Regions from separate parts of the Homo sapiens genome. Here all the other regions are reported to be linked to region 3. Evidence: microRNA targets listed by miRTarBase, many of them from high-throughput screens and not tested one by one. Region 3 holds a microRNA gene; each other region holds the end of a gene's coding sequence.

The links. Region 3 holds the annotated microRNA hsa-miR-4268 (GGCUCCUCCUCUCAGGAUGUG, at 4,700-4,720, opposite strand). A microRNA usually pairs through its seed, bases 2 to 8, with sites in the 3' UTR of a target mRNA and lowers its output. Matches are read on the target gene's strand: a 7mer-m8 pairs with bases 2 to 8, a 7mer-A1 pairs with bases 2 to 7 and ends in A, and an 8mer does both.
Region 1: the mRNA of TMEM178B is a reported target of hsa-miR-4268. Seed matches in the 3' UTR shown: 7mer-m8 at 4,200-4,206.
Region 2: the mRNA of WIZ is a reported target of hsa-miR-4268. Seed matches in the 3' UTR shown: 7mer-A1 at 905-911, 7mer-m8 at 2,097-2,103 and 7mer-m8 at 2,265-2,271.

The regions. Positions count from the first base shown.
Region 1 is chr7:141,467,869-141,478,156 of GRCh38, reverse strand. TMEM178B (transmembrane protein 178B) reads right to left here. Exons shown (of 4, transcript NM_001195278.2): 4 at 1-7,621. The coding sequence ends at 7,371. Among named protein-coding and RNA genes, the nearest start is that of AGK-DT, 78 kb to the left of the region's middle.
Region 2 is chr19:15,413,827-15,423,883 of GRCh38, reverse strand. It overlaps WIZ (WIZ zinc finger), which reads left to right. Exons shown (of 13, transcript NM_001371589.1): 13 at 649-3,906. The coding sequence ends at 808. It overlaps AKAP8L (A-kinase anchoring protein 8 like), which reads left to right and starts at 4,896. Exons shown (of 14, transcript NM_014371.4): 1 at 4,896-4,973. The coding sequence starts at 4,961. RefSeq lists enhancers at 8,845-9,344, 9,345-9,846.
Region 3 is chr2:219,901,813-219,912,100 of GRCh38, forward strand. MIR4268 (microRNA 4268) reads right to left here and starts at 4,753; the gene lies at 4,690-4,753. LINC01803 (long intergenic non-protein coding RNA 1803) reads right to left here and starts at 3,077. Exons shown (of 3, transcript NR_146975.1): 1 at 2,703-3,077; 2 at 2,433-2,567; 3 at 2,239-2,341. It overlaps LOC105373890 (a long non-coding RNA gene), which reads left to right and starts at 3,199. Exons shown (of 3, transcript XR_923927.3): 1 at 3,199-3,294. RefSeq lists an enhancer at 4,552-6,746.

The sequences.
Region 1 (10,288 bases), not on the chromosome of region 3:
TCTTCTGCCTACTGCCTCCACGCCACCACTGCCTCCACCATCTTCAGTCTTATTTGGTAGCAACCCTTGGCCAGACTCCCTGCTTCTGACACTGCAAGCCACATTTATATGGTGAGTCATAAATTACAAAGCAATTCACACATCATCTCCTTGGATGCTCTTTCTCCTACCCCAGCCCAGTGCAGCAAAGCTCAGTCAGTAGAGACTGATAGTAAAATGAGATCGTCAAAGTGGGTGGGAAAAGGAATCTGAGAATGAAACGGTAGATAGAAGGCTCTGGACTCTGAGTGCAAACTGGCTGCTAGCTCAAGGTCACTTTCTGAGGGGCGAAAGCAGAGGCCAGGAGTAGCAGAGAGAAAACATCTCCTAATTTACCTCCATGCAGTAAGCACGCACTAGCAAGGGCTCAAAGTCTCTCTAGAAATAGCAGCAAAATACACAAGGGGACTGCGCACCCCCAGAGCCCTGGAAGCCCCTGATCCCCATTTGGCTGAGAAGACGTGGAGACAAGGTGAGGTAATGAGACTCCCCCAAGGCCCTGAGTGAGCCGGTGACAGGGCCACTCATGCCACCCCAGAGTCAGGTCTTTGTCATGACCCTTGCCATGACCCTTCAAACATTGCTGATTTACTTTTATTTTGGGGGAAGTGCATTCTACTTTACAGGGAAAAACCTTTAGAACAGAGAGTTCTAAGCAGACACTGATGACTGTGAGAGAAACAACCAGAAAAAAACCTCCTGTGTCAATGGTATCCCTCCCTTCATATCCCACCCTAACTCAGGATTTTAGGGCCGTCCACAGAAGTCCTCAGAAAACTAAGGGCTACATCATTGCATTTGTTTAATCTCAATCTCCCTCCCCTTTATTTTCAGTTTTCACTTTTATTTGTACATTTTTACAGATAGTCTTGAATAGCAAAACAGTCACACCATGGGTGGAAATGGGGAAGGAGTATGAGAATGAGTTCATGAAAGCTCTTCACAGGAAAGGCTTCGTCACGCTCACAACACAGACGCACTGGTACAGACGGAGAGGGTCTATGGGTGACCCGGAAAGGAAAGGAAAAGCTCAGCCAGTGGGAGGAATGGGGTTCTGGAGAGGAGAGAGGGATACAGAGTTCCTTAAGGAGCAACACCTGGTCCTTGGGAATGAAGTGTAGGAGTTGCATTTGCTGAGGTTGGTGTTTGCCAAAGAGATGCCAGCTTCTTCGAACTACTGCTGTGCAACTCTTCATGTTCAGACCCAGTTTTCTGTTTTTCACACCTGAACATACACCCCCCTGCAGTTGGGTGGCTCCCCCGTTACCAGCTGGGCTCTATCTACAGAGAGAGCAATGGCTTCCCTTCCCTTGAAGGAAGTCTCACCCTCACAAGGACACTTGATCCGCTGCAAAGCAGAAAGTGTGCGGACCCTTTGGGAAGGGCGTTCTTTTCTTGTTTAGAACCTAGGATTCTGTTTTTCCCAAACAGGATCACACCCAGACACGTCTTAGTGAATGTACCATCTAAAGGGCTTCCTTATATGAATTCATATGTTTTTGACGAAGCTACTGGCTTCAGCAACTGACAAGAGAAAGAAGATCCCAGCTCCTTGAGACTTGGTCTCATCCTAAACTTGAAAGATCATTGAAACCTTTCAGAATCTGATTTGCTTCCACCCATTCCTTTTGGGAATGTACAGCTAGAAATAACGTTAGGAGAATTAAAAAAAAAAATACTAAGGCATTGACCATGTGCCTTGGTTAACAGTTAACTGGTTTAGCTCATATATGCTATTTGCCCCATATGGTTTACTCATTCTGTCACCTCTGGGAATAACTGAGATGGATAAAAGTGCCCTTTGCAAAACTGGCTCTAGACAAAAGGAAGTCTAGGAATAGGTAAAGAAAAATAAGGAGCCAATTTCTCTGGGGGACCTGAATGAAGAATAGAATCCTTTAAGTGTGCTTAAGTGCGACAGGTCCAGCCCTGTTCAGCAACAAAGATGACCTTGCACTCTGGGTTATCCTTCAGCAGCGAGGCACAGACACTTGATGTGAGAATTCCATTCCAGCGGGGGGTCTTCTGAGGGATAATTAGAACATACATAACTCATATGACACTTCATGTTTGCAAATCACTTTGCAATTTCTTTGTCACCCTTAATATACCATGAGGTAAGGTGTTATCACTTATCCTCATTTTGTAGATGAGGAAGTTCAAGTATGGAGAAGACACAGTGCCCAGAGTCACAAATCATTTCAGTGCAGAGCTGTAGTGAAATTTACAGTAACTGTTACACAAGTGTAGCTTAATGAGTGAGTTACTCTGGCTTCCGCATTCTTACATCTATGATTAGATTGAGATGGCAACTGACCAAAAAAAAAAAGGAAAGAAAAGGAAGGAAGGAAAGCAGGCAGACAGGCCCAAAGAGACATCTTTTAGCCCTGCTCCATCCTGCCCCTAAGGTCTGGCATTAAACTTTTAGGCCTCTTTGCTATCTCTGGGGGCTCAGGGCCCTGCACTCTTGCTGCCAGGAACACAGGGTCAACTCAACGCAGACCAGTGCGGTTCTGTGGTGTACACTGCTCACATGGCCCCAGCTGCCAACCCAGAGACAAGCACTCATTGGGGAAGTTTTGAGGTCATGACCATTTGGATTGGGCCCGCGGTAGATGCCTCAGAGTGACTGGATTATGAAAAATCTTGTAGTCTTTTTTGTATTTTATTTTTCTTATTTTCTACAATGAGCAGTTATTATTCAGGAAAGAAATCCAATACTCAGTAATCACATATTCTAAGAACCAGGAATAATGTTTAAGAAACATTTTGCATCATGGCAGCATCAATGAAAAGAGGGCAAACACAGCCCCAGACATTGAGAGCTTTGAGAGACAGACACGAGAATCACGTGTGTATGTCAACTCTGGTGGGGTTCTTAAAAATCTGCCCCCTTAGTCTATCCCACACCAGCTGGAAGATGGCATGGAAGGCAACCCTGCTGGTGTGCACCAGCTCTTCCTATCTGCACTGAAATCACCTCTCACTCAGAAACATCGTATTTCCCTGGAAAGGGCTGGCTGTGTCCCCTGGGATGGATGTGTCCCCTGGGATGGGTAAGTCCCCTGAAGACAGGGAACATTTTCAGAAAAGCAACTTCACTTTAACTACAAGAATCAACCAAGTATCCCCCACAAACCACACCAAAGGATGACCAGAGTGTATCTCTTCCCACTCCTTCCCCCAGATATTTGAAAAATCACTTAACACTCAGCACATAATCCAGGTGAAGAGAGAGTCCATTCTAAATGCCTCTGGGTGATGTACCTGAGTTCATTATTCTGAATTTGACCCAGGTGGGCATCTTTGGAGACCTAAGCAGCACATCCTCCCACTAAATCAAGACAGCTACACACAGTGCATTCATTTCCGGCATCTTATCATGAGTGTGGATGAATATTGAGATATAGGGCCCAGTCTCAGAGTCCTAGGATATCCTACCCTCTTGTCACAGGAGAGGCAAGCATTGCTAGGTGGGACCACTCATCCCTGATGGGAAGATATGCACCTGGGCTCAGGGCGCTTAAGAAAGTCTTTGTCTAGATTTGGAGGAGTTGTCCAGTCTCTGTGACTCCATGATCCCTGAAGTTGAAAGGGTAGGGTTGTTGAAAAGCTAAGGCTTGGAGGAGGATTGAAGCTGGAACAGGCACAGATTTTATTTTTCATATTTTGATGCCAGGGAGCCACAGACCTCCTTATAAAACCTACAGCCACAATGAACAAGGAAGGGGGCTGCTTGGAGTCTAGGAGCCTCTCTACAGATGAATCACTTGTCTATGTTAATTGACCAAAGTTGATGCAGGAGAAAGTAGGAGTGAGTAGAGAGAGAGGAAACGGAAACAGAAGAAGAAACCGTAACTCCCAAAATAAGGAGAAAAAGATATGGGACCTCTCTCTAGGTAGAATACCTCACTTTCCTGAATCTCAAGGTAGTAGAGTAGGGAAGGAAATAAAAGTTGCAATGGGCCCCAGGCTCAAGGTTGACTTGCATGGAGCTCAAAGCACATACATGTTCATATGCCAGTAAGAAGTTTGAACTTGACCTGGGGTTGCGGCTGGTGACTTTAGTGAGGTCATTGACCCTAAATGCCCTCATAAGGTTGGGTTCCACTTTGATTTGGAGTTAGCAGAGTCTGACCTACAGAGCCTCACAAGTCAAGGCTCCTCTCTTCCTCCTCCTCATCTCCCTCAGCTACCTCACAGCCAGAAAGCTTCCGTAACTGGTTGGAGTCACATGTTTTAATCTGTGGTCAAGCCCTTATGCTAGAGGGATCAAGGTCACCTGAGAAGTCCTCCCATTGGCCAGGACTTGCCGTCTGAAAGGGGCCTCTATCCTGGTCATGTGGCTGGGCGTCTTTTGCTTCCCAGCAGGATCAGATCCCAAAGTGTGTTCGTATTTATCTGGTCCTGCTATCAAAGAAGTCACTCAAAGCCCCTGCTCTGGGCTGGTGAGTTGAGCCCAGGTTGTTTACGTCTTTCCTGGGAGCTTTCTAACATTTCAGGAACTCTCAAGGTTTCAAAGGGATGCAGTAAGCTTTGCTAAATGTCTGTCACAAAGACAATAATTGGATAGAGCAGATAATCTATTCATTGAAAGTATGGGATTTTTTTTTAAAAAGAGGATATAAATAATGATAGGTCTGTGAGCCAGCATCCTCAAACATGATTACTTACAAAAAGTTTAAATGGTTCATAGCAAATTTCCCCATTTAGAATTTTTCCCCTCTCTCCTGCAACTGGAAAAAAGCTGGAATTTCAGTGTGGTCATAGACAAGCCCTCTCCCCCAAATGGATGCTTGTGAACCTGTCTGTCCCTTCCTCGGCAGAGCCCCTTCAGGACGCTTGGAAGGAAGACAAAAGGCCTCTCAATCTGAGATACTTTTCTTCACTTTTCCTTAAGCCCAAGTATGCCCTTCCCCTTAAGGGAGAAATCTAACTTTTCAAAGAAAATTAGAAATAAAATGCCCAATTGAAAAACTGGGTTTTCCTGAAAATTATTTCCCTTCTCATAGAATAAATCCTTTGTTTTAAAAATAATCCTTAGAACCCCAACTGGAAGCTAACAACTTTTCCCGTTGCACACCTTACCCTATCGCCCAGCACACCCACACACAGGGAACTCACACATGAGACCTTTTGCAGAAGCTGACCAGAGTCCCCGGTAAGGAAGTCTTGAGTAGGGCACCCACACCTGTGTGCAGGTGTGTACTGACACAAACGTACACAAAATGCACCAGAGAGATACACATACAGAGAGATCCACATTCAACCCCATTCATGCACATCAGATGTCATATCATATCCAGATATGAATTACATACACGCAGTTCAAAGGAGCAGATGAGGGTGGAAGATAGAAGAGAGAGAAGGTAAGTGGTTAGTAGGTGAGAAAAGGAGGAGAGTGGTAGGAAGATGGGTTGGAAGACGTGTAAATGAAACAGATTACACAGCAGTGGAAGAAAGGCTGCTGAGTGCCTGGCAAAGCTCCCAAAGCATATTTGTTTATGAAACAAGGGGATTCTCTGCTACACAGTTGACCATGGCTACACCAGCTCAGGGATTCTCACCTGGCCTCCCCAGGGCTGCTGGGCACCAGCAGGCTCACTGAGATGACTGTGAGCGGCTCCAGCCCACTCCAGCAGACTCCCACCCCTACAGCGTTCACAACTCTCTGGCTGACTTTGCTTGCCAGCACCTGCAGTGCTAATTTGCTCAAATGAGCCCGAGACACTGGGGTGGATTTATTCCACCTCTGTTTGGGTGCTAGCCACTAAGACTGTTATTTTGGGATTCATGGCCTTGAATATCAAGAGGGAAAGGAAGAGGATGGAAAGAGTCAAGAGTTCTGCATTAATTTACACAATATCATACAAACTTGAGCCCATGGGAAATGGAGGTGCTCTCTCTGCATGTGACCCACTTCCTTTCGTTTGTACAGAGGTCACCCCTAGGGAAAGGGGAGATGTCCAGTGACAAAGGACAGCTTCTATAATGGGGAGTGAAGGTCTTGTTGGTTTATGTTCTTGTACAACAGCAACCAGAGCAACATTTCTTCTCTCTCCTGAACTGTGTGTTCCCCCTCTTCTCTCATGGCTTATGTGCCCAGCTGTGTCTTGAACTTCCAAAATTAGAGGACTAAATCGTGCAGAGTCCCAGAGCTGTAATGTGGAGAACCACGGGGGTCCTCTGGCCCAGTGGCTTTGTTCTTGGTTCTGCCCTCTGGAAATTTCAGCTATACCAGAAACAATTTAAAAAAACACAACACAAACAATAAAACCCCACGCTCAAGAAACATCCACCACACACACACACACACACACACACACACACACACACGCACACACACACCACTCCAGGGATCTGTAGCTGCAGAATTGGCACCCTTATAGGCCTGTCCCTCATGACAATTTCTAGGTCTCTGGGCCTCTATCTGGGGCCATGAAACCACTACAGTGATAAGAGAGACAACAGTCATAATGCAGTATTTCCATTTAAAAGGTAGAAAAGAAAAAAAGGAAACCGCCCAAAGTACACATGCACGCACACCCACACACACACATCACAGCATGACTCCAAGGCTCCAGTCTGCCCAGGGAGTGCAGGTGCGGCTGGGGACAGGGTGGCCTCTTGTTTCACTGGGTGTAAGGCAGCTGGAAGGTAAGACTGGGTTGTCTGAGCATCCACCGAAGCGTCCTTTCATTGATGCAGATCTTGCCTCTCAGCATGTTCTCTTCCCTTCCCACCTATGAAACATGGTCCAAAAGTTTGGCAGCAAAGAGAAAACGTCCTTCTCAGTTTGTTTTCTCTTCCACTCCTTGTGTGTTGCTGGTGGGCTGGGAAGGAAGTCCGAACAGGAAGAGCAGGAGAAGAAGTGATTCTGAAAATGGCCTCAATAATTTGGTTACATTCTAGGAACTGAGGGCTTTGTTACCCTGTGATATGACTGGTTAGGGGTGGCGTCCTCTCCCGTTGACCCAGTGGGTGGCACTTCCTTCTCTACATCTGTGCTGCCTCAGACCCCTTCCACTGTCCCTTCACCACCCCATCCTCGCCAGTGATGGGGATCAAGACGCGGTCGCAAGTGGTGGTGTTTGCTCTGTCTTCAAGAGACCATGAAGCCAAAAGTCAAGAACTGATGGAAGAGCCACAGGATGGAAAAACTTTCCCCATCTCAGAGATGAGGCAACACAAAGTCCGGCGAGATGCAGGTGCCTGAGCCAACTCAACTCTACCTTGGCACTGGCATCGTCTTGATTTAGTTTTGTTTTGTTTTATATATGTATATTATATATATATATTTATATATATATATGTATGTATGGGTTTGTTTTTTAGCACACTGTCCCATTCTCGGGTCTGGATTTAGGGTAGTTGGTCCTCGGGACAGGTTGAACAGAAGGGGCTAAGGTACAGAAGAATCCCGAGATGAGTGTGAGGCCCAGGCCCCCCCATGCACAGAACATGGACCAGCCATAGCCATGGCTGATGTCATCAGGGAGTCCGTACAGGTAGCGTGGGTAGCGTGACAGCTCAAAGTTGATCCCGGCCACACAGGTGCACAGTGAAATGATGCAGAAGGTTCCTGGAGGACAAGGGAAAAGACACAGGATGGGGAAATGGAGAAGGAAAGGGGAGAGGAGCGGGAGAGAGAAAGAGAAAAGTTAATATTATTACATTTTCAATTTTCTTGAGTAGGAAAAATGGGAAGTCTAGGTAAGAGCAGGTTATCACCAAGGTCAGTATCTGGAAATATTCATGGAGCAGAGAATAGTATTAAAGGATCATCACTTCATCACTCTCCAATAATGGCCCAGTCTTGGACACACTCGGGAAGTCTCTCCTTTGGGAAGATGCTAAATAGATATCTCATGAGCATTTTGTGTGGGGTAGAGTGAGCAGAAGAGCATTCAGTTCATTTTCCTAAAGCATTTTAAATTCATTGTATTTCTTTGGAGACATGGAAAACACCTACTGTTTGCTACTTCTTTAAAGAGAAAAACAATCTTTTCTCTTTCTTATACATAACAACTTACTCATACAGTATTAGGTTTTCCTTTAATCTGTTCACCAACAATTCTTCCAAAACCTGGAAATATTTTCCTTTTTCCTATAAGACATTTCCCAAAGTGTTCTCTCTGGAGTGCTAACGCTATGAGATCCTTTACAAAGTGGGAGGCAGAGTCAAAAGACGGGGAATCCTACTCATGACTTCTCACCCATGAACACGCATCATCCACGTTAATATTAAGGTAACTCATCTACCCTACTTTATGCAGAATTTCACAAACTTATTGATGATGGGACGTCCTCTTAAAAACATTACTTATATCAGTCTCTAATAAGAAAACTGCTATAAGAGGTAGAATGATATAAAATGGTTTAGAATTATAAACCCATTTTAAACTAATACAACAAGTTTTTGGTGTGCCTAAAATGAATTCAATAACTTTTCTCTGCATTTGCCGTGTTTTCTGTTCTTTATGTAACCACTGATATGAGAGCAATGAGCAGAAGAAGGATGTATAGTTTGGGAAGGCTGGGCTGGGTCAATGGAAGGAAGAAAAAGGAAAAGCACTTTTATAGGGAAGGAACAAAAGGAGGTGCATTCAATTTTATATTTATTATTAAAACTCTTGCTTTCTAACAGCCAAGTTTCTTTAAGATTGAGACTTGTTTCTTTAAGATCTAGCCTAATTTTTTCCAGAAGCTTCCTGGAAGACAAGGAAGAAAATATAGAGTGGAAGAATGAGGCTCACCAGCTCGTGATAATTTAAATGGCCACAGTTGACCCTAAAATAAGTATTAAGTGCTATGTGCTAGGAACTGTGCTAATGATATACTGGTTAAAAATGAATTATTTAGGCAGAGAGTGAGGGTAAAGAAGTCCTCGGTAAGGTTTTCCTTTTAATAAAAAGCAACCCCCAAATCATTTCTTTGAGCAAATGAGCAGCCTGTAAAATTGAGCTGCAGACATAGATAAGCAAGCTGGAAGCTTGCATGGGTGCATACTGGCAGCTGTGCCAATAGGAAGAGGCTGCCTGGGGGCTAGGCATGTTCAACATGGTGGCTGCATCTTCCCTTTTCTTTGTCAACCACATGAACAGTAAGGAGGAAACAAGATGGTGCCCGCCAGGTAGAAAATCCGTTTGCATAATGAAAAGATTAGGATGGGGTGGCCAGCTTCTTCGTGCCCTATGTAAATGTCACACCCGGTTCAACCAATCTTTGAGCCCTATGTATCAGACGCCGCCACCTCAAGCCGGTCTATAAAACCCTATGCACTTCGCCACAGACTGGAAGTCCCACTTGGGCACCCTTCTCTCTCTGCAAGAGAGAGAGCTATTCTCCTTTCTCTTTCTTTTGTCTATTAAACCTCCGGTCCTAAACCCACTTCTTGTGTGTCTGTGTCCTCGAGTTCCCTGGCGTGAGATGACAAATGTCGGATAATTACCCCAGACAGTGACACTGCCTCACTAAATTTGTGGCATGTACTAAAACCTTAATTCATAAAACAACTCTAAGATGTGGGTTATATTATCCCCATTTTACTGATAAGGACATTGACGCCCAGAGAGCTTAAGTCATTTGCCTAAGATCACACAGCTAGTAACTGACAGAGTCAGGTTACAAACTCAGGCAGGCTAGTTCCAGAGCCTGCAGTCTCATCCACTGTACTGTTTACAACTGGTGCCAGGCAAAGTGGGTCACTTCATGGGTTTCCCTTGTTTCACACCTAGGTTCCAGATGCCTTCTCTCTCACTCGGCATGGGTTAGGGCAGTTTGTAGTTTTGGAGGACTCAAAGCAGATCACTGAGCCCCACACCCACAGTTTCTGGTTCAGGAGATCTGGGGTGGGGGCCTGAGAATTTGCATCCTGAAGAAGTTCTTGGGGCATGCTGATGCTGCTGGCTCAATGACCACACTTTGGAGCTATAGGATTTGAAACAAGTTTTTACTGGAGAAAGATAAAACTTAATCGGCCAAAGCCCAGATCCAGAGGAAGAAATACAAATGGATTGTACATGTGAAAAATGGTCAATTTTACCAATAACCAAAGAATTGAAAATTAAAAGCATAATGATAATCTATCAAATCAGCAACACTTTGTTTTATTTTATTGTTGTTTTGCTTTTTTTTTTTTTTTTTGAAAGATCATCTCCAAAACTAGTAAGGGGGCAGTAAAATAGACAATCCCATAGACTCCAGGGCGAGTGTAAGCTGGTGTTTCCTTGCAGAAAGGTGATTTTTA
Region 2 (10,057 bases), not on the chromosome of region 3:
TTACGAGGAGTAAGTGAATTTAATATTTATAAAGCACTCAGAACTGCCTGGCACATGGTAAGTAAGCACTCAACTAGTGTCTGGCTCAAGAAAAAAGTAGATCTTAGTTAATTCTTACCAAAGTCCACAAGTACATTGAAGAGCAGCGAACTGGGACTCTGAGACGTGAGGTGACTTGCCTGAGGCCATACAGGCCAAGTCAGAAGTCAGAGTCAAAGCCACGTCTTGAGCCATGGAGCTTGGGCTCCAGGCCTCTGTGCTGTGAGGCCTTTTTAGGTGCCAGGAAGACAGGAGGAGGTGGGGGGCTTGGTGCGTTGGGTAGGATTTGCTTCTCTGTGCCCTCTACTGTCTCAGATTCTATGTATCTGCCAGATGGCAGGGGTACCTGGAAGCCAGTAGCCCTTACCTGGCACCAGTGACTTCTGAGCACAGAGGCAGGGGTCTCTGTGAGACCCTGCCATGACCCCATGGTGAGTGGAGGTGGCTGTCCATGGGAAACGCCTGACTTCTGGGTCCCTCTTCCCCCGCCTCCTGGGCTGGCTCTGTCCACACTGAGTAGCAGCAGGTGTGCCCAGGGATGCTGGCAAGGCTATGCTTCCGCCTCTCCTCACAGCACTGGCCACTCCCTCTCTCTGTTCCCCCATGCAGGTTCTGTGAGGTGGAATTCCAGGGCCCCCTCTCCATCCAGGAAGAGTGGGTGCGGCACTTACAGCGGCACATCCTGGAGATGAACTTCTCCAAAGCGGACCCCCCACCTGAGGAGTCCCAGGCCCCGCAGGCACAGACAGCGGCGGCAGAGGCTCCCTAACACAAAAGCATTCCAGATCCCCTCTCGTGCCACCTCTGTCTCCTCTTCTTCCTCCTCTGTGTCCTTGTCCCTCTTCCTCTTTCTTTCCGTTTCCAAAGGAGCAAGCCAAAACCTCAAACCGGCGCCCCTTGGGGGCCGGGCACACTACAGCCAGGGCGCCGGGAGCCAGCTAGCTGCCCTTCCCCCAGCCCGAGGACTCTGGGGCCACAGGGTGTCTTCCTTCAGCCCATGCCCACCTGGTCCAGCAGGGGCAGCAGCCAGGTCTCTGATGGCAGCCGGTCTGGTCACAGGGGAGGACAGCACTCCCCCGTCTAGCAGCCAGGCAGGGCGATGTCTGCCATCCGTGGCCATTTGCAAAGACCCCAAAGACCCCTGTTCTGGTTCCCTCTCTCCCCCATGAATATCCTCTCACACACATGTACATGCGAACACACACAACACGCACCTCGTGAGACCCGGGACCTGCCCCGGACCCCCAGTTCCTGGGTTGAACGACCACATCATGCCACGGTGCTTGCTCAGGGGAAGCCACGCTCCCTCTGTGGGGCCTGCTGGGGCCTGGGAGCCCCCCACTGAGCCCACAATGCCACGGAAATCCTTGTTGGCTGCCCCCGAGAGGGGCCTTCCCAGCTGGGAAGAGCTCAGAGCTGACAGCTGCCTCCTGCCATGTCAAGGCCCCCCAAAGAGCCTCAGGGGCTCTGGGGCCCTGGAGGGTGGGGTTGGGGGGTGGGACTCTCCTCCCCCACTCCTGCTCCCTCTCCCTTTTCACTGTTGCTTTCTATGTATAGCTCCCTAGACCTTTCACTTTTTTAAAAACGCGTTTTGTGTAGAGAATAAGGAACGTGGATCTTTTTATTTTGCAATCCTGGGCCAGCTAGAAGCCAGGAGCTGATTGACCTTTTAACTTTTTTCAGTGGCCACATTTTGGTTATCGATGTACCTAGAAGTATGTAAATTAGATTAAATTTCTCTTCTGGAAACACCCTGGGGCAGGCGGCCAGCGTGTGTTTTTCTGTCAAGTGGACAGGCTGGCATTGGCTGGCAGCCGGGGCTGGGATCGGGGCCTCCTCTGTCCAGAGCGCCATGGAGGCCCTGGGTTTTCCAGTTGGCCGCCAAGCCGACCAGACGCAGCTGGGGATGAGCCCAAGTTCCCAGCTGTTGGCTCTTTAGGCCATGGCTGGGAGGGGGTCTCTGGCTGGCTGGCAAAGCGGCTCCAGTGAGCAGATGAACCAGGGTTCTGGGCAGCCTGTCTGGGAAGGGAGCCAGGATCAAGAAGCAGTTGAGGCTAGAGGAGCTTATCAAAGGCAGGAGCTACCAGCGAGGGTGTCAGGGACCCGTTGGGAGCATTTGGGTGGGGGCCAGTGGGGTTGTAGAGAGCTGGAACTCACCTGCTTTTAATACATGTGACTTCTAGTGAGACACATGCACCCCTGACCCAAGGAACATGCGGGGAAAAGAGGAGCCACTGGCTCCTTTGCGATGTTATTTATTTTCTCGCTCTGCAAATGTTTATTGAACATTTCTGAGATTTTAAGAGATTTTGTTGGCTGCTCCTTCTTGTTTATTGCATGTGGTTTTTCAGCTCATCGTTTTTACTAAACGGTCAAGTGCTGGAGAGTGGGAACGACCTCATGGCGTGTGGACAGAAGGGGCCACCTCTACCCCCAGCCCTGCTTTCTGGGCCCTCCCACCATACCCCTTCCTGGGAAGGAGGGATTAACAGGCTGCAATAACGCCCACAAGGGTGGTCTTGGCCCACACGTCTGCTCCTGTGGGGTCAGGACGCACATCTCGCCTGGTGGCAGAAGGCCGCAACCACTTCTCTCCATCCTGTGCTGTGGGTGGGTGGATGTATCCAGGACTTAGGAAGCAGGGAGAGCATCTTGTGAGCTGACTCAAAGGTGTTTCTTCCTCTTTCAACTTTTCATAAGTCAGTTTTTATTTTTTTATTTTATTTTTTGAGACAGGGTCTCATTTTGTTGCCCAAGCTGGAGTGCAGTGTAGGGACCTCGGCTCGCTGCAGTCTCTGCCTCCTGGGTTCAAGTGATTCTCCTGCCTCAGCCATCCAGGTAGCTGGGATCACAGGCATGCACCACCACCCCTGGCTTATATCTGTAATTTTTGTAGAGACGGGGGTTTCACCATGTTGCCCGGGCTGGTCTTGAACTCCTGAGCTCAAGTGATCAGCCTCCCAAAGTGCTGGGATTACAGGCGTGAGCCACTATGCCCGGCCCGTAAGTCAGTTTTTGAAATATAAAAGTGGTATAGGCTAGATGTGACAAAAAACAGTCAAATGATACAAGAGCTTATAAAGTCATATGGCAAGTTCCTCCCCACCAATCATGCAGTGAAGTGAGGGTCATGTGTGTCCTTGGAAGAGTCACCTCCAGTTCTTGCAGGGGGATGTTTTCCTAAAACTTTCTGAGCATTGCTCTTCTCTGCTCAAGCCACTTCAATACACCTCAGGCAGCAAAGTCTCAGCTTTTGAGCCGTGGTCTCTGAGGGTGTTGGATGTGAACGAAATCAAATCGGTACAATGATGACTGTGGCAAGTGCGATGAAGGAACGAACCTGCAGGGCGCAGAAGACGTGTCCTGGGGCCCTGCCTTGGTTTGGAAGACAGGCAGGCATCCCTGAGGCTGATGGGGAGATGAACCCCGAAGCCAGAGTGCTTATCCGTCAGATCTCTGCTTCATGTTTGGAGTTTGCTCACTTAACACATCAGAAGTGGCTTTGTTCCGTATGGCAGCAAGTTCTGCAGAAGCCTCATTTGGGTGGGGGGAGTTTTATTAAAACAGTTTATCATGGAGAATTCCAACTATACAAAAGTAGAGCAAACAGTAAAATGGACTCTCATCTATCCATCACCAACCCATGACCAATGTCTTCAGCTGTCAGAGATTTATCTTATAGCTCCTTGCTTCCTCCTCCTCTCTCTACCTGTCTGAATTGTGTGAAGCACATCCTGGCCATAAGATCAGTTAACTTCTTAGTATTTCAGTATGTTTCTCTCAACGTTGTAAATGCCACTATTACACCTAAAGAAATCAACAATATCAAAAAGAAACAGCATACCTTAAAAAAAGTTTTAAAACACACGAAGCGTAGAAGTCGTAATTGCGCAGCTTAATGAGTTTTCACAAACACACGTGTTAAGTACTCTTCGGTGCAGCTCTGTCATCTCTAGAAATTATGAGTTGTCCCTGGCAGGGTTTCCATATGCCCAGGAAACAGACTGAGGACATGACTGGTGCCCGGCTGCACTATTGCAGGATCTCTCGAGCCCAGAGTGAATCAGGAGGGTTTTAGAAGCAAAGCTCCCATTTTAACACGTAACTGTCAAGGACCTTGAGCAAATCATGAGTTCCAAGCTTCAGTTTTAAGTGAGGATTAAAAGCTTTTTGCAGGTTTGAAGGAGCATTCGAATGACACACAATACAAACGGAATTATTACACATATAAGCATATGCCATATAAATATATTATCGTTTTGTTACGATTAATCACATTTATTCAGTGCACTGGCACCAGAATGATTTCTTTACACACACTTTGTCACGTAATGTTGAAACGTGTGTCCAGCATCTTGTTTGGTGCTGTTTTAATTTTCTCTTCTCAACATGGCTTTGCTATGCTTGTTTTGGAGCCGAAGGCCAGAGAATTTGAGAGACTTAGCTAGGTCCCCTACCCAGCACCTCGGTGGCGGAGTTGGCATCCCAGCCCTGCCCTGAGCCGTAGACCCGACTCCCTCTGGCGGGTCTCCAGGGTACGGGCGCTCCTCCAGCCCGACCATGCTTGGGCCTTGGGCCTTTCCGTAGTGCACAGCTCCGCCCCCTCAAATTCTATAGGACTCCGCCTCTCTGCCGGCTTCTGTAGGCCAATCACTGAGGCCTTAGAATAACAGAAGGCGGGGACAAGGCGGGGCTCTCACGAGATTGCCAGCAGCTTCCAGCCACTGATATGAGGAGGCATAGAGATAGACAGCGGTTCCTTCCAATAGACGTGAAGCCGAGGCCGGTATGAGCCAATGCGGTCGGGAGGCGGGGCTCGGGTGTGTGTGGAGGGGACCCTGTGGTTAGCAGCAGCTATCGCAGCGTCGGATGTTCAGAGCAGCAGAAGCCGGCGTCGTCGGATGTTGTGTTGCCCGCCACCATGAGCTACACAGGTGGGCCTGGCAGGGTGGGGTCGGGCTCTGCGTGGGGGATGGGACAGGGACGTGCGGATGCCGCACCAGGCTTGCCCGCACCTCCCCTGGGGCCCCGTCACTGCCTTCCCTGCGGTCACAAAATGGCGCCGCTGGCCCGTCGCCTCAGGGTCGCTGCCCTCACGCCTCGTTGCCTCAGCTCTCTGTGTCTGCAGCCGGCGTCCCGGCTCCCGGCCGCCTGATGTCTTGGCTTCTGTCGCCTGTGTCCGTGGGTCCGGGCCTCAGCGCACGAGGTCTCCGCCCCCACCACCTCCGTCCCTGGCCTGCGCTCCTGGACCTCGACGCCTTAGGTTTCCCTTTCTCAGGCCTTGGTCCTTGCGAGCAGGCAGCAGGCTCGGCTGCCGTCGCCATTGTCGCGTCCTCCCCCGCGCAGTTTCTCTGCAAAAACGCCGCAGCTCTACACCCCCATCCCGATCCCACCCACCACCCCCTTTTGTCTATTTCAGAACTGGGAAAGGCGCCAGGCCCTAGGGGGATAAGTAAATATTGGAAGGGTTTGGGCTGAGCGGGGAGCCTTGGGCCCCTAGGGGCTGAACTGCAAGGAATGACAAGGTTCCATGTTAATTCCCTCTGCGTCTGTCAAATGAACCGTGTCCGGTACAGACTGGGTATTGGGAATACAGACAAGAATTCCTCAAGCAGCTTAGAGGCGAGGATCTTAATAGGCAAATAAGCGAGTGTAGGATATATTTTAGGGTGGTCAGTACCGTGCGGGGGTCGCTCCACTACGTGGAGTGGTTGGAGCCTTCTGTAAAGAGGTGACATTTGAGCAGAGACCTAAATGGAGGGAGCGAATAAAGATATCTGGCCCAGGGAGCTTTTGCTGTAAAAGGCTTACGGGCAGGAACTGCCTGGCTTGTTAGAAGATCAGCCAGGGAGGCCAGTGGGAGGCCAATGGGATTTGAAAGGGAGAGTGGGTGACAGATCCGAGAGCCCCTCTCCGCCCCCCGCAATATGCTTGGGCGACTGTAAATCATCACTGGGTGAATTGCCAAGGCCTCCTGGGTTTGCCTTGGCAGTGACTGATGAGGCTTCTCGGCCAGGAGACTTACACTAGGCCTCCCTGTTTGGTGAGGGTATTATAGGCTTGAGCGTGTGTGGTTGCCAGGTAACCTGCATTCTACTTGGAATTTTGAGAACTGAGAATGCAACGTGAGTCTGTGGGGCTCCTTTGTAGACCACTTTATGTTGGCATAGGCAAGAAGGTAGTGCCAGTCCCCTCTACCCTGGCTGCCAGGTCAGGAGCTTTCCAAGAACCCCAGTTTTTCTAGCAACCATCCCCCAGCCCAGTGGGTTCTCATCCAGGGGTGATTCTGCCCCAGATGACATCTGGCAATGTCTGGAGACATTTTTGGTTGTCACATATGGGAGTGGGAGTGCTGCTGGTATCTAGTGGATGGAGGTTTGGGATGCTGCCCTGCTACGGTATACACAATGACACCTACCGCAAAGAAGTATCTGGCGTCAAACATCAGTAGTGCCCAAGTTGGGCAGCTCTGCCAGAGCCTTTCTGTAGCTTTCCTAGTTCAGGAGGAAAGACTATGGGGTTGTTACTGACATCCCTGGGATTGGAATATAATTCTCACCAAGTCTTACCAAGAACTGGAAGACAGTTTCATGGTTTTTAAAAACAGGACTCTTGAAGAAACCAGAAGATGAATGGTTGGGTGCTGTGGGGTAGCTGAGTAATGGAGCTCTTTTTTTTAATAGATGAGGAAACTGAGATACAAGGTCACTAATGACCAAACCTGAATTCCAGCTCTAGGTCTTGTAGGCTGTAGTTCTGGGTTTGGGTGGGCACTGAGATAGCCAAGCTAAAAAAGTAATGATTAGTTTTTCCTTTATCTTGATAAACTGAAAACCACAGTAATTTACAATGTGAGTCTTCCCCTTATTTAAGAAGTAGGGCACTAAAGTCAAAGGCATTTTAATTCACATTTCAGACAACTAATAGCTTTAAGGGTAAGTCCTAGAGGCCTCGAAGCAAATGTTAGCATTATTAAACATAAAAGGTGACTGATAAATCTTTTTATTAACTCGCCCTGCTTTTGAACCCTGTTACCTTATTTATACGTGGGAAAGGAAGCTGCATCTCTAGCACTGAGAGGGGAAGAGGAGAGCAGTGGTAAACAGCACAGAAATATCCAGAATCAGGCCCTCAAACAAAGGTCTGAAATGCTACTGTACTTGTCATAGAAACATTTATTGTCTCACACAGTTTCTTTATGTTTGGAATGGATAGGTGATTTCACTGGGTGGTTCTAGCTTGGAATATCATGAGGTTACATTTAGGATCTCTATGTGGACTAGAGTCATCTGAAAGCCTGACTGAGGCTGGAGGTCCCACCTCCAAGGTGACTTAAACTCCCATGCCTGGCAGGCTGATGCTGGCCAATAATTCTTGGCCCCATGGATCTCTCCCTAGGGCTGGCTGCTGGAGTATCCTCACAACATGGTGGCTGGTTTTCTCCAGACTGAATGATCCCAGAAAGAGCAAGGCGAAAATCCCAGAAGTCACACTCAGTCATTTTCATAAATCTTATTGGTTGCACTGGCTAGCTCTATTAGTTGGGAGGGATCTACATAACGTTAAGAGGCAGGAATGGAGACCATCTTTGAGGATGGTTGTCACCCTACTCTTGGCTCAGATAATAAAGATTGAAGGCAACCTAACCTAATTCCAGTTATCTTTTAATTTTTGGTACTCTGTGTTACTCCTTCAAATAAGACTCTTTTTTTTTTTTAGATCAGGCACGGTGGCTCACACTTGTAATCACAACACTTTGGGAGGCCGAGGCAGGAAGATTGCTTGAGGCCAGGAGTTTGAGATGAGCCTGGGCAACATAGCAAGACCCTTTCTCTATAAAAATTAAAAATAAAAAAGTTAGCTCTGCGAGGTTGAGGCTGCAGTGAGCCATGATTGTGCCACTGTGCTCCAGCCTGGATGACAGCGAGACTCTGGGATTTTTTTTTTGTTTTTTTTTTTGAGACGGAGTCTTGCTCTGTCACCCAGGCTGGAGTGCAGTGGCGCCATCTCGGCCCACTGCAAGCTCCGCCTCCCAGGTTCATGCCATTCTCCTGCCTCCGCCTCCCAAGTAGCTGGGACTACAGGTGCCCGCCACCACACCCGGCTAATTTTTTGTATTTTTAGTAGAGACGGGGTTTCACCTTGTTAGCCAGGATGGTCTTGATCTCCTGACCTTGTGATCCGCCCTCCCTGGCCTCCCAAGGTGCTGGGATTACGGGCATGAGCCACTGCGCCCGGCTGACTGGGAGGTTTGCTGGAGCCCAGGAGTTCAACATTGCTGAGCTATGATCATGCCATTGCACTCCAGCCTGGGCAACAGAGCAAGATCCTGTCTCAAGAAAATATATACTCTTTTTTAAAAAGGAGAAAGGAAAAGTATAAAACTGAGAAGCATTTGTTTTGTTTTGTTGAGACAGGGTCTCACTATGTTGCCCAGGTTGGAGTGCAGTGGCACAAAATCATAGCTCACTGCAGCCTCGCCCTCCTGTGCTCAAGTAATCCTCCCACCTCACCTCAGCCTCCCAAGTAGCTGTGACTACATGTGCATGCCACCATGCCTGGCTAATTTTTTATTTCTGAGATGAGGTCTCACTATGTTGCCACGCAGGTCTTGAACTCCTGGGCTCAAGTGATCCTCCCAACTCAGCCTCCCAAAGTACTGGTATTACAGACATGAGCCACAGCATTTGGCCTGCTTTTGTATTTTTGAGCAAAAAAAGTTGACGAGAGATTGGTTAAAAGCAAGGAGTGTTGCTGCAGAACTAGAAATCCATGGTCTCAAAGTGAGAGGATTGCTTAAGCCCAGGAATTCAACACCAGCATGGGTAACATAGTGAGACCCTGTCTCTCAAAACAAAAAAAGAAAAAGAAAACAAAAATTAGCTGGGCCTGGTGGTGCGTGGCTATAGTCCCAGCTATACAGGAGACTGAAGTAGGAGGATCACTTGAGCCCCGGAGGCTGAGGCCACAGTGAGCAGTGATTGTGCCACTGCACTCCAGCCTGGATGACAGTGAGACCCCCTGTCTCTAATAAAAATAGAAAGAAAGAAATCCGTGGGCTAGGCGTGGTGGCTCACGCCTGTAATCCCAGCACTTTGGGAGGCCGAGGTGGGCGGATCACGAGGTCAGGAGATCGAGACCATCCTCGCTAACACAGCGAAACCCCATCTCTGTGAAAAATACAAAAAATTAGCCAGGCGTGGTGGCAGGTGCCTGTAGTCCCAGCTACTCAGGAGGCTGAGGCAGGAGAATGGCGTGACCCCAGGAGGCGGAGCTTGCAGTGAGCCAAGATCGTGCCACTGCACTCCAGCCTGGGCGACAGAGCGAGACTCCGTCTCAAAAACAAACAAACAAAAAAAAAAAGAAATCTGTGATCTAACATTTAGCTTTATAGGGCCATATAGGGCATATTTTATTTTTTTCAACCAGCGCTAATCAGGCTGATAAATTGTACCAAGAGAACACTTTACAAACCAGCTAAGAATTTAGGCCGGGCGTGGTGGCTCACGCCTGTAATCCCAGCACTTTGGGAGACCGAGGCGGGCAGATCTTCTGAGGTCGGGAGTTTGATACCAGCCTGACCAACATGGAGAAAACCCGTCTCTACTAAAAATACAAAATGCGTAGTGGCGCATGCCTGTAATCCCAGCTACTCGGGAGGCTGAGGCAGGAGAATCGCTTGAGCCTGGGAAGTGGAGGTTGCGGTGAACCGAGATCGCACCATTGCACTCCAGCCTGGGCAACAAGAGTGAAACTCCGTCTCAAAAAAAAAAAAAAAAAAAAAAGAATTATTCATAATAGGAGCCAAAACTGGCTACAGAAGGGCCTGCTCTGCGATCTTTGCAGATGGTATTGTGGAACAGAATGTTAATGTGGTGCAGGGTATAGAGTTAGAGCAGAGATTGCCATTGATCTTGGAGGGTTTGATGGATCGTCTTTCCTTCCTAGGGAAGCACCAGGGCCCCTCTCGCCTGAACAGACACAGATATTTTGCTCAGCAGCTTGCTGACTGTATCTT
Region 3 (10,288 bases):
GACTACAGGGGGCAAAGGGGACTTGGGTTGAACAAGACAACAACAAACAAACCAACCGACCCCACTAACTGGTTGACGAGATGGAGGATACATGATTGCAGAACCAAAGTTGGGGGATGTGATGAAGTAGCAAATAGCCACAACGGGCAGTGGTTCCCAGCTCTTATTCATTTTCTTTCTTTCTTTTTTTTGTTTTTTTTGAGACAGAGTCTCGCTCTGTTGCCCAGGCTGGAGCGCAGTGGTGCAATCTCAGCTTACTGCAACCCCTGCCTCCTGGGTTAAAGGAATTATCCTGCCTCAGCCTCCCAAGTAGCTGGGATTACAGGTGCCCACCACCATGCCTGGCTAATTTTTGTATTTTTAGTAGAGACAGGGTTTCACCATGTTGGTCAGGCTGGTCTCGAACTTCTGACCTCAGGTGATCCACCCGCCTTGGCTTCCCAAAGTGCTGGGATTACAGGTGTGAGCCACCCCCCCCGCCCTCTTATTCATTTATAAGTTACTAGTGTGTGGTTGTTTGGTAATGCGCATAGGACACTGTGGGGTGCTGACATCCAGAGAGAGTGACAGAGGTGTTGGAGTGGGGCTGCTATGTGGGGGAGAGCCGCAGTCTGGTGACAATACTGAGTATGTTACTGTGTGTTTTTGTGTGTCTTTGGAGTGAATGAACATGGCAGAAAAAGACCCTCGAAGGGGAGGTTGAGGTCAGACAAGGAAGGCCCTGAATGCCACATCAAGTTTGCCATGGCCCCCACATTCTGGTGACACTGGTGTTAGTCAAGGTTTCAGCAGGCTCATAGTAGGATAAATTGAGCAGTTAATTAGAGGATCATTTGTAAAGGAGTGAGCATGGTGTGGGGAAATTGTTCAAGGTTAGTGCAGTCCTTGGATTTAAGAAAAGAGAGTGCAGGTATCACCTGCAGGCCTGAGGGTGTGAGGGGGGGGCATGGCTCCCCTACCCTGAGATGGCTGGGGCTGTGTGCAGACCCCACAGGGGAGGAGCTAGGGGATAAATACTTGCTTCCCTTCCTCCATCTGGTCTGATTTCCTAGCGTTGCTGCCTGTACTAGTCAGGGTTCTCCAGAGAAGCAGAACCACTGGTGTGTGTGTGTGTGTGTGTGTGTGTGTGACAGACAGAGGGACAGAGAGAGAGAGACAGAGAGAGAAAAAGAGAGAGATTCATTCGTTTATTTAAGGAGCTGTCTCATGTGATTGTGGAGGCGTGGTGAGTCCGAAGACTGATGGGGTAGGCTGTGAGGCTGGAGACTCAGGGAGTTCAAAGGCTGTCTGCTGGCAGAATTCCTTCTCACTCAGGGGGAGGTCAGTCTTTGTTCTATGAAGGCCTTCCACCTTCATTGGATAAAGCCCACCCACCTTATGTAGGGTATTCTGCTTCAAGTCCACTGATTTAAATGTTATTCTCATCCACAAAACACCTTCATAGAAACATCTAGAATAATGTTCGACCGTGTATTTGTGTACCATGTCCAACCAAGCTGACACGTTAAAATTAATGATCACACTGCCTCTCGGTCGATCTCAGTCAGAAGCCAGAGGGCAGGGGAATCTGGATGCTGTGGGGGTGTGTCAGCCTCTGAGGCACAGAATGGTAAAGGGTGGACATCGAGGGGCAAACCACTTACCCCAATGTGATGTGGAATAAAGTAAGGGGAGGGTTTTACCTTTGCACCCTCTCTCTTCTGTCTAGAAGCTTGGATTGGGGTCGTGGGTCTTTCTGAACTTTAAGTGTTTCCAGAGACCCTATATAGTACAAGCGCTCCTCCTGCCTCCCTGCAAATGAGTACAAGCATCAAGCAGAAATGAAATCTCTTAAAACACTGCTGGTTTCCTTTTATACTTTAATTTTTTTCTTAAACTACACGAATGGCAGTATAAGCCGTGTGCAATTTCAAAAGGCAGTCACCTAGACGGTCTGGAGAAACAGCAAACTTTCATCTTGAGATCCGTGTGCCGATTTCACTGTAATAATCCCCCCACATCCTGCAACCTGCACTCTGGCTGTTCTGCACTTGCAGAGGATGGTGCAGAAGGACTTAAGTTGTTTCAAGAAAGATTTAAATTAGATCTGATAAGGAGCTTTATTACTGATGCTGTGGAATACTGGGAGGGGGTCTTTCTGTTGGGCTATTTTGGATTTTGGACTTTACTGAAAAACAAATAGGCCAGGGTCAAATTCACATCAGAGGAACACATGTAAAATGGAGACTTGAAGAGTTATTTAGCTAACGAATAAGAAATGGTTTTTAATAATTGGATAATTACCTTAATTCTCCACTTCATTTTGTATGATGCAATGTATTTTGAGTTCTGCAATGATGTTCTGGCGGAAGTGACAAGAATTGGAAAACTATTATCACAAACAGATGACAAAGTGCTGTACTGGAGATACCATAGGTCTAAATTCAGCTGACCTCAGGGATGGCTTCTAGAAGCAGAAAAGCCATGACTGCAGGGGCCACCTGGATAGGGGGATGTAGACCAGCCTCTGCCCTGGTTAGCAGGAAAGTAGCTGGGAAAGCCTCCTTCCCTCTCTTGGATCTTCCTCCCTAAAATGAGAGTCCAGTCATGTCCCAGAACATGGAGCAGAGCCGTGAGCATCACCTCTGCCAGATAACACAGCTCAGATCATTATTCACATGCATGTCATGTATGGCATGGCTCATGGGTGGAGGGAAACCAACCTTTTTATTCTGGCTATAGCCGATTGGACTGGGCAGATACGCTGAGGCCACAGAAAGGCCATGTCTGGGCTGGACATAAGGGATGTCAGAGGCCTCCGGGGTGCCTGGGGGAGAGTCTGCTTAATCCAGGTGCCCACTTGACTAGTAGAAATCAAATCAAATCAAATAAGTGTCTTCTCTTTCAAGTTAATGCTAAGAAATCTGGCAGGTCACTGAACTCGCTACCGCCCCAAAATGCCGAGTGATGCATCTGTCTCCATGAGGTTGCTGTATGTTTCAGAACTGGGATGCAAAGTTCAGCTTCCCGTGACACCCGATTTTCAGAAGTATCCTTGCAAGACATTGCCATAATTCCAGGTGATCTGAGTCCCTCTTTCTTGTCCGCTTGACTGGTTTGACTGACTTGACCAGTACAATTTCATCAAGCTCTAACAGTGTGAGATTCCAATTCTACTGTGATGTAATATGGTGCCTGGGAGGCAGGGTGGTGAAGGAGCTAAGTAAATGGGCTCTGGGATCACACCACCTGGGTCCATTTTGAGCTCTGCCTGTTAGGTCGGGGTAGGTTCAACCCCTGTAGCACAAACACCAGGTAAGAATGCCTTCACCAAGCAAGATGGGTGTTTATTTCATGATCACTTAACAGTGTGGGTGTAAGCAGTTCAGGACTGATATGGCAATCCTAAAATTTGAGGGATGCAGGCTCTTATCTTGTTGCTTCACCATCTTCAGGGTGTTTCTCTCACCCCTGTGCTTTAGGTGGCTTTCCACAACATCCATAATCCTGCCAGAAGAAGAGGGGAGAGATGAAGGGAAGGTACAGAGGGAAGCTACTCACATCACTGCAGCTAAAACCTATTGGCCAGAACTTAGTCACATGGCAACACCAACTGCAAAGGCATTTGGGAAGTGTAACCTGCATTAGTTTTGTATTGCTGTATGACAAATGAGCACAGACTCAGTGGCTTAAACGACACAACTTTATTATCTCTCAGTTTCTGGGGATCAGGAGTGCTCGTCCTTTGCTCAGGGTCTCATCAGGCTGCAATCAAAGTGTCATCCAAGACTGTGATCCCATCTGAGACTCAGGATGCTTGTCCAAAGTTACTGGTTATGGGCAGGATTTAGTTCCTTGCAATCGCAGGACTGAGGTCCCACTTCCTTGCTGGCTGTCAGTGAGTCCGTTCCCAGCTCCTAGAGGCTGGCTGCTAGTCTCTGCCATGTGGCCCTTTCCACAATAAGGCATTGCACCTTCAAGGCCAGCAAGAGCATTCCTCTGACTCTTTCTCTTTAGCAAAGGCCCAGTTTCTTTTAAGGGCTCACCTGATTAGGCCAGGCCCACCCAGAGTCATCTCCCTTTTGACTGACTCAGAGACAACTGATGTGGGACCTTAGCTCCATCTGTAAAATCCCTTTACTGCTATCATATAATACAGCCTAATCTAAAGGAGCAATCATTTCATCCTATTACCAGTCCTACTTGTACTCAAGAAAAGGGGGTTTAAAGGCTATATACACCAGGGGGTAGGAATCTTGGGGACCATTTAGAATTCTTCCTACTTCATAATCTTTATTTGGGTGGCTATATGCCCAGCCAATAGTAATCAATACAATTCTGATTTCTGTAGTTCTATGACTGGAGAAGAATGGGAAAACGATATTGGGGATAACTAGTCTCTGCTATAATAACTTATTATCCATGTTATCTTGTTATTTAATTTTTCTGTGCTTCAGCTTCTCCTATAAAACAGGGATGATGACAATACTTCATACAAACACAGAAATAAAATAAGGGAAAAAAATTCAAGAGTCATCAAAAAGTCTAGCCATATCTTAATGACTAATGAGTACAAAAGGGGCTTGTTGAAATCTTCCCAATCTTGACCTTTTTTATACAAGTGCTAGACAAGTGGAAATCTGCAGAATATTCCCAGCACCTCAAACTCACCATTGCATAACAAATGATGTCACACAGTGAAGATGCCCCCAGGTGACATCACATCCTGAGAGGAGGAGCCGCTAGGGCAAAACCTCTAGAACCTGATGTGCATTTTGCCAGGGAAACCAGAGTTGCACGATTTCTATGAACTTGAAAGTTAATCATGTCCAGTACAGATACAAAGCAAGAGTGTGCATATGTGTATGGCATGCCTGTGTGTGAAATTAGCCACATATTGATTAAACTTTCCTATATGCTGAAGGGATGGGGTGGTTTAGAGAGCCGTTGGAAGAAACAAAGCAATGAACTTATCATGTTGCTTGACTCAACGAGCTCTGGGATTTAGAAACTAAATCTGAGCCATTAGTATGTGGCTTTACTTTTTTAATAGGAAAACATTCCACATAGGTCTAGCAACGTTCACGTTAGGGTTTTTAACACTTTCATATGCATCTCAGATAGCCAACCTGGAGTGGTCCTTGAGTAACACACAATACAAACAATTATTCCAGACATTTCAAAAATGAAGTGCTACCAGCTTCATTGTGTCCCCCAGCTCTGGCGAGTAATGAAAGACATATTCTTAATGTGAAACAAAAGAGGATTGTGAATATTAAAAAGCAGCCCAGCCAGTTAGAGTTAAACCGTCGGGATAAGATATTAACTTAAACCACATGTGAAGTGCAGCTGTTTCTGGTGAAGCTTTCATCAGGCTCAAGTGGAAAGATTGGTGGGTTTTAATATGTGGTTTCCAGCCAAGCCAATAGGAATCTGGGGAAAATGTGTGTGAAATCAGGCCTCTGCTGGGGGGTCTCGGGCTCTGGGCTGGCTTTTCTTTCTGTGAACATAAACAAAGGTAACCCAATGCTGAGGGCAAGGCCTGCTCCATCCAAAGGTTTAGCTGAGAGACTCTGGAGTGACCAGCCAGCCTGTGGAGTTTCTGGACTCTTCATTCTCCCTTTCAAGAGGAATGCATAAATAGGTCCCATGGTGTTAAGAGTAGGGATGAAGGAGGAGTCTTCTTGTATCTGTTCCCTGCCACTTCATCTCAGGAACATCTAGAATTTGTTCAGCTCCTAATAACTGACAGCATCAAATGGTGCCAACTCTATTCGAACTTACTGGCATGCTGGTTGGGTTTCACCTCTGAGGATTTAAATTTGCTTAAGAAAAGTGGTGCTATATACGATGCCTCACCTACCTAAGAACATGAAAATATTAGAAATTAATGAAAAAGTATGAGATGAGTGCAAAATAAGGATTAATTGCACACTATTTCTTTACAAAGACTAAATTAGTTAAATAGCTTAAAGGTTGGTTGGGCTGCTGCCTGATTTTGTCCAGCCAGTTCTGGAGGCCCTAGATGATTGCTTCTGGACTCACTGCTGGGTGACGCTGTCAGCCTTCCACTGCTTACCTCCTGCCTCATAATATTGCTTTCAGCTTCAGAGGTGTGGAACAGAAATAATCTTTATGAGCCCACAAATTCAGGAGTTGTGGGAGAAAAGTGGAAATGTCTGAACTGTACTCATTGACCTTAGGAAAACAGTTGAAATATTACCATTTCTGTGCATTGATTCATATATTTAACATTTATTAGGCAGCTAGATGATTCAAAAGACTTTGCAAAATGCTCTTGGGGATGCAAAGATGTGTAAAAGGGAAAGGAATTGACATTTATTGAGAATATACTATATGCCAGACATCACAGAGGCCATTGGATTACATTTTCTCATTTAATTCCCGAAACCTTGAAGGGGAAAGATTATAAGATAAGATCTTTGCTCTCAAAAGCCTTCCAGTCTGTGATTAAATAGTAGATAAAAGACATATTCAAATATCCATGAAATAAGATATTCTAACTATATGCCAAAGGAGAGGTTTTAATGGGAGTTAAGAGTCTGGAGTCATTACTTGGGGAATGAAAGAAAGTTTATTGGAGAAGACCATATTTGAGTTGGACACTGAAGTTTGGGTAGGATTTAGATTCACAGAGAGGGAGGACAAGGCATGACCCAGGTGAAGGAGAAGATGAGGGCAGGGGAAGCAAAAGGAAGAAGCAATCCCTATAAGTCTCATGCTACTCAGAGGTCAAGGGAAGATCACTTATAGAAGTTTCCCTTATTACCACTTCATGGCTCTTGTACCAGGTGAAGTCCATACCTTGACTTTAAGGCCACACTGTATGAAAAATGCAGGTCTTTAAACACTAGATGCACATTCAGTGCGGTGAGATGCTGACACCATCAGAGGCCTGATCAAATTAAGGCCTGGTGAGGGCAGTGCAGGCTCTCCTTTCCAATCTCATGCTCACTCTGGGGCCCAAGTGCGTGGAGTGGGATGACTGGCCCAGTGGCCAGCACTGTTTCATGTGGGCTCATCTCTCTGTCTAGTTATGATGGGGCTGTGAACTTCAAAGGTTAACTTCACATAGAATTTGATTATGAAGACTGAGATAGGGACCAAAATACAGAGTCAAGTCACTGTGGGTGAGAATATGTCTGTGGAGGTGGGGGCAGTGTTGGAAGGTCAGGATGTTGGACAGGCCAGCCCTGCTGGGGACAGAGAGTGAAGGATTGGTGTTTGGACTGCATTTGGTGTAGGGTTTGGTGGCAGTAGGGTATAAGGAAAAGTTTCGGGTAAGCTTGTTTCAATGCATTGGGGCTACTGGATTGCAGCTAAGAAGTGGAGATGTGTTCTCTGAGAATTAGTCACCCACATTCTACTTCATCATGTTGCTTTTAGGTTGGCACAAAAGTAATTGTGACTTTTGCCATTACTTTTAATTTGGCATTACTTGTTGAGTCTGAGAAGAAAGTAAGTGCCTTTTCTAAAGCAGCCCCATTCCTGATGGAATGTTGAAGCTGAATCCTCATGCTTGAGGTTAAATCAATCAAGTCACTAGGCACCAGGCTCTAGGGAGGCTGCAAGGAAGTTTGGCGGACAGTTTCTATCCTCAGGCAGTTCATTGACCTATAATATTCTCATGAGAAGGTGACCAGTAGTATATGGTGAGTCAGGTGCCTATAAGCCCAACCAGTGACCCAAAATGTTGTACTGGTCTCCTAGGGCTGGTATAACAAAGTACCCCAAACTGGGTGCTTAAACAATGGAAATTTATTCTCTCATAGTTTTGGAGGTTGGAAGTCCCAATTCAAAGTGTCAGCAGGGCCAGATTCTCTCTAAAGGCTCTAGGGAAGAATCTTTCCTTGCCTTTTCTGGCTTCTGGTAGTTTCCAGCAATCCTCGGTGTTCCTTGGCTTATGCCAGCATAACTCCAATTTTCTCTGTGTCTTCAAATCTCTCTCCATAGAGGGACACACGTTTTTGGATTTAGGGCCCACTCTGATCCAGTATGACTTCATCTTAATTATATCTGCAGAGACCCTATTTCCAACTAAGATCACATTCATAGGTACGGGGTTTAGGACTTCAGCATATCTTCTTGGGAGACACAACTCATGCCACAGCAGATGTTAATGTGCAGGCTGGCTGGATAGAAGGACCCTATGAACTGGGATAGTCATGGATGACATCTTGGCATGATGGGACTTGAGCTCTTTATCAAGAATATGTGGTATTTGGATGGAGAAGGGGTGGGCTGGACTCCAAGGAGGGTGGAAGGGGAAAAAGGGAAGAATTATATGGCTGGGGTCACAGAGACTGACTGAAGCAGATTAGAGACTGGTGAGGAGCCAGCCTGGTAGGGACAGAGGAATGAACTGGGGAGTGATGAAGACTGACACTTTGGAAAGAAACTGGGGCCAGATTGTGGAGCTACCCAAGCATACTGGAAAACTGAATGGCTGGGCTTCAACCGTATTTCCCATATTCTGGAAAAAACTCCATTCAACATCCCCAAAAACCTTCAGAAGACAGAGGCAGTCACACATGAAGAGCCTTATGCCCAATCTGCTTCTGAAGTGTATCCCCAGATATCTTGTAAAAGCTTATGGGCCACCCAGTGAAGTGGGTGCCTTGGGTTTAGCCTGAAGAAGACCTACCAGCTCTGGCAAGGGCACTCATGAGGTTAGCCAATATGGCATTAGTAAGGCAGAGCAGTGAGCAAAAGGCCTGGGATCTGCTCTTCTTCTCTTTGGGCATCAGATTTCCCATTTGCAAAAAGCAATGGCTTTGGTTGTGACATGCTGCAGTTTCTTGACTCTATATAATAAAATGGTGTAACTTATGTTTGAATAGACTTAAACTAAGTTCATCTGCAAATATTCCTTCATTTGATACAGCATCTCTATGAGATGGATAGAGAAAAATTTTTACCCCATTTTGATAGATGAGGACATAGACTCAGAGGAAGTTCACTGACTTGCAGAGGCACTGAGCTGGTTAATTAGCGGAGCCAGAACTTGAACACAGGTCTTCAGAATGCTAGTCCAGTGTTTTCCATTCCACACAATGCCTCCTTTATAATCAGAATTTCTCCATGTGCTCATTCATTCAACAAGCAAACATGTATTAAGGGTCCGCTATGTGACAGGTACTCTGATAGGCCCTAGAGATACATGAATAATTAAAGCAGGGTCCCTATCCCAAGAAGGTCCCAGAGTGCTGGTCCAGTGCAAAATCTTGTACATAATGGTCGGGCAGAGACTACACTTCAGGTCGGGTGTCCTCATCCCACCAAGCCAGGCCCGCCATAAGATCAAGGGTCTACCGGGCAATGCTCTTGGGCCAGTTTTTTAAAATTTCAGTTCATAAACATGGAGCTGCTACTGAAGGCACATCTGACTTCTTGTATAGTTTAGTCAGTATCTACTATATTAGCAACACTTAACATCAACTAGAGAGAGGACTGTCAAAAGGGAACTTCTGAAATTGAGTGAACTACTCTTACTGAATTTGTAGCTGTTGTGAAATAACTCTCAGGTCACAGTCTCTTAGATTTGCATTGCATCTCTCAGTTTACAAAGTCCTTTAATAAATGTAATAGCACTTGATAGTGTTACAATCTGAGACGGCATCTCCTTTAGGAACAAGCAGACCTCAGACCCTACGACCTCTAGGTGAGTGACCTTCACAATTGCTTAGCACAGTGAAACCTCTAGCTCCTCATTTGCAAAATAAAGATGGATGATAATGGTGCCAGTCTCATAGGATTTCTGTGTAGGAGGATGTGTGTGAGGTGCCTGGTTGACCTTCGAGAAATGTGAGTTCCTTCTTCAACAGAGCAATGAATAGCTCTCTTGAGTGAGGGAAGCAGCCCAGCACGCTCAGCTGGCAGGCTGTTCTCCACACGTGTTTTAGACTATGCTGGCCTTTGAGGGAAAAGGATGTGGTTCTCCTGACTCCTGTCTCTACTAAGATTTTTGCATAGTCTCCCATAGATAAGCTTGGTGCAAAAGTGATTGCGGTTTTTGCCATTATTTTCAATGGTGCAATCACTTTTGCACCAAGCTAATAGAAACCAGTGAGGTAGACAAATCAGTGAGGTATAATTTGGGAAACCTCTGACTGAGTCTACCATTTTTAGTTGCTTTCAATTTGATTAAATTAGTGCCCAAATGCTTAAAGTGGTATGCCCAAGGTCGTGGTCACCAGCCCATGCCTTCAAATCCAGAGCTCTTTCCATTAAGCCACTTGTCCAAGATACATCCCTCAGAAGTGGTGATATCCTCAATGTGTATGAGAAA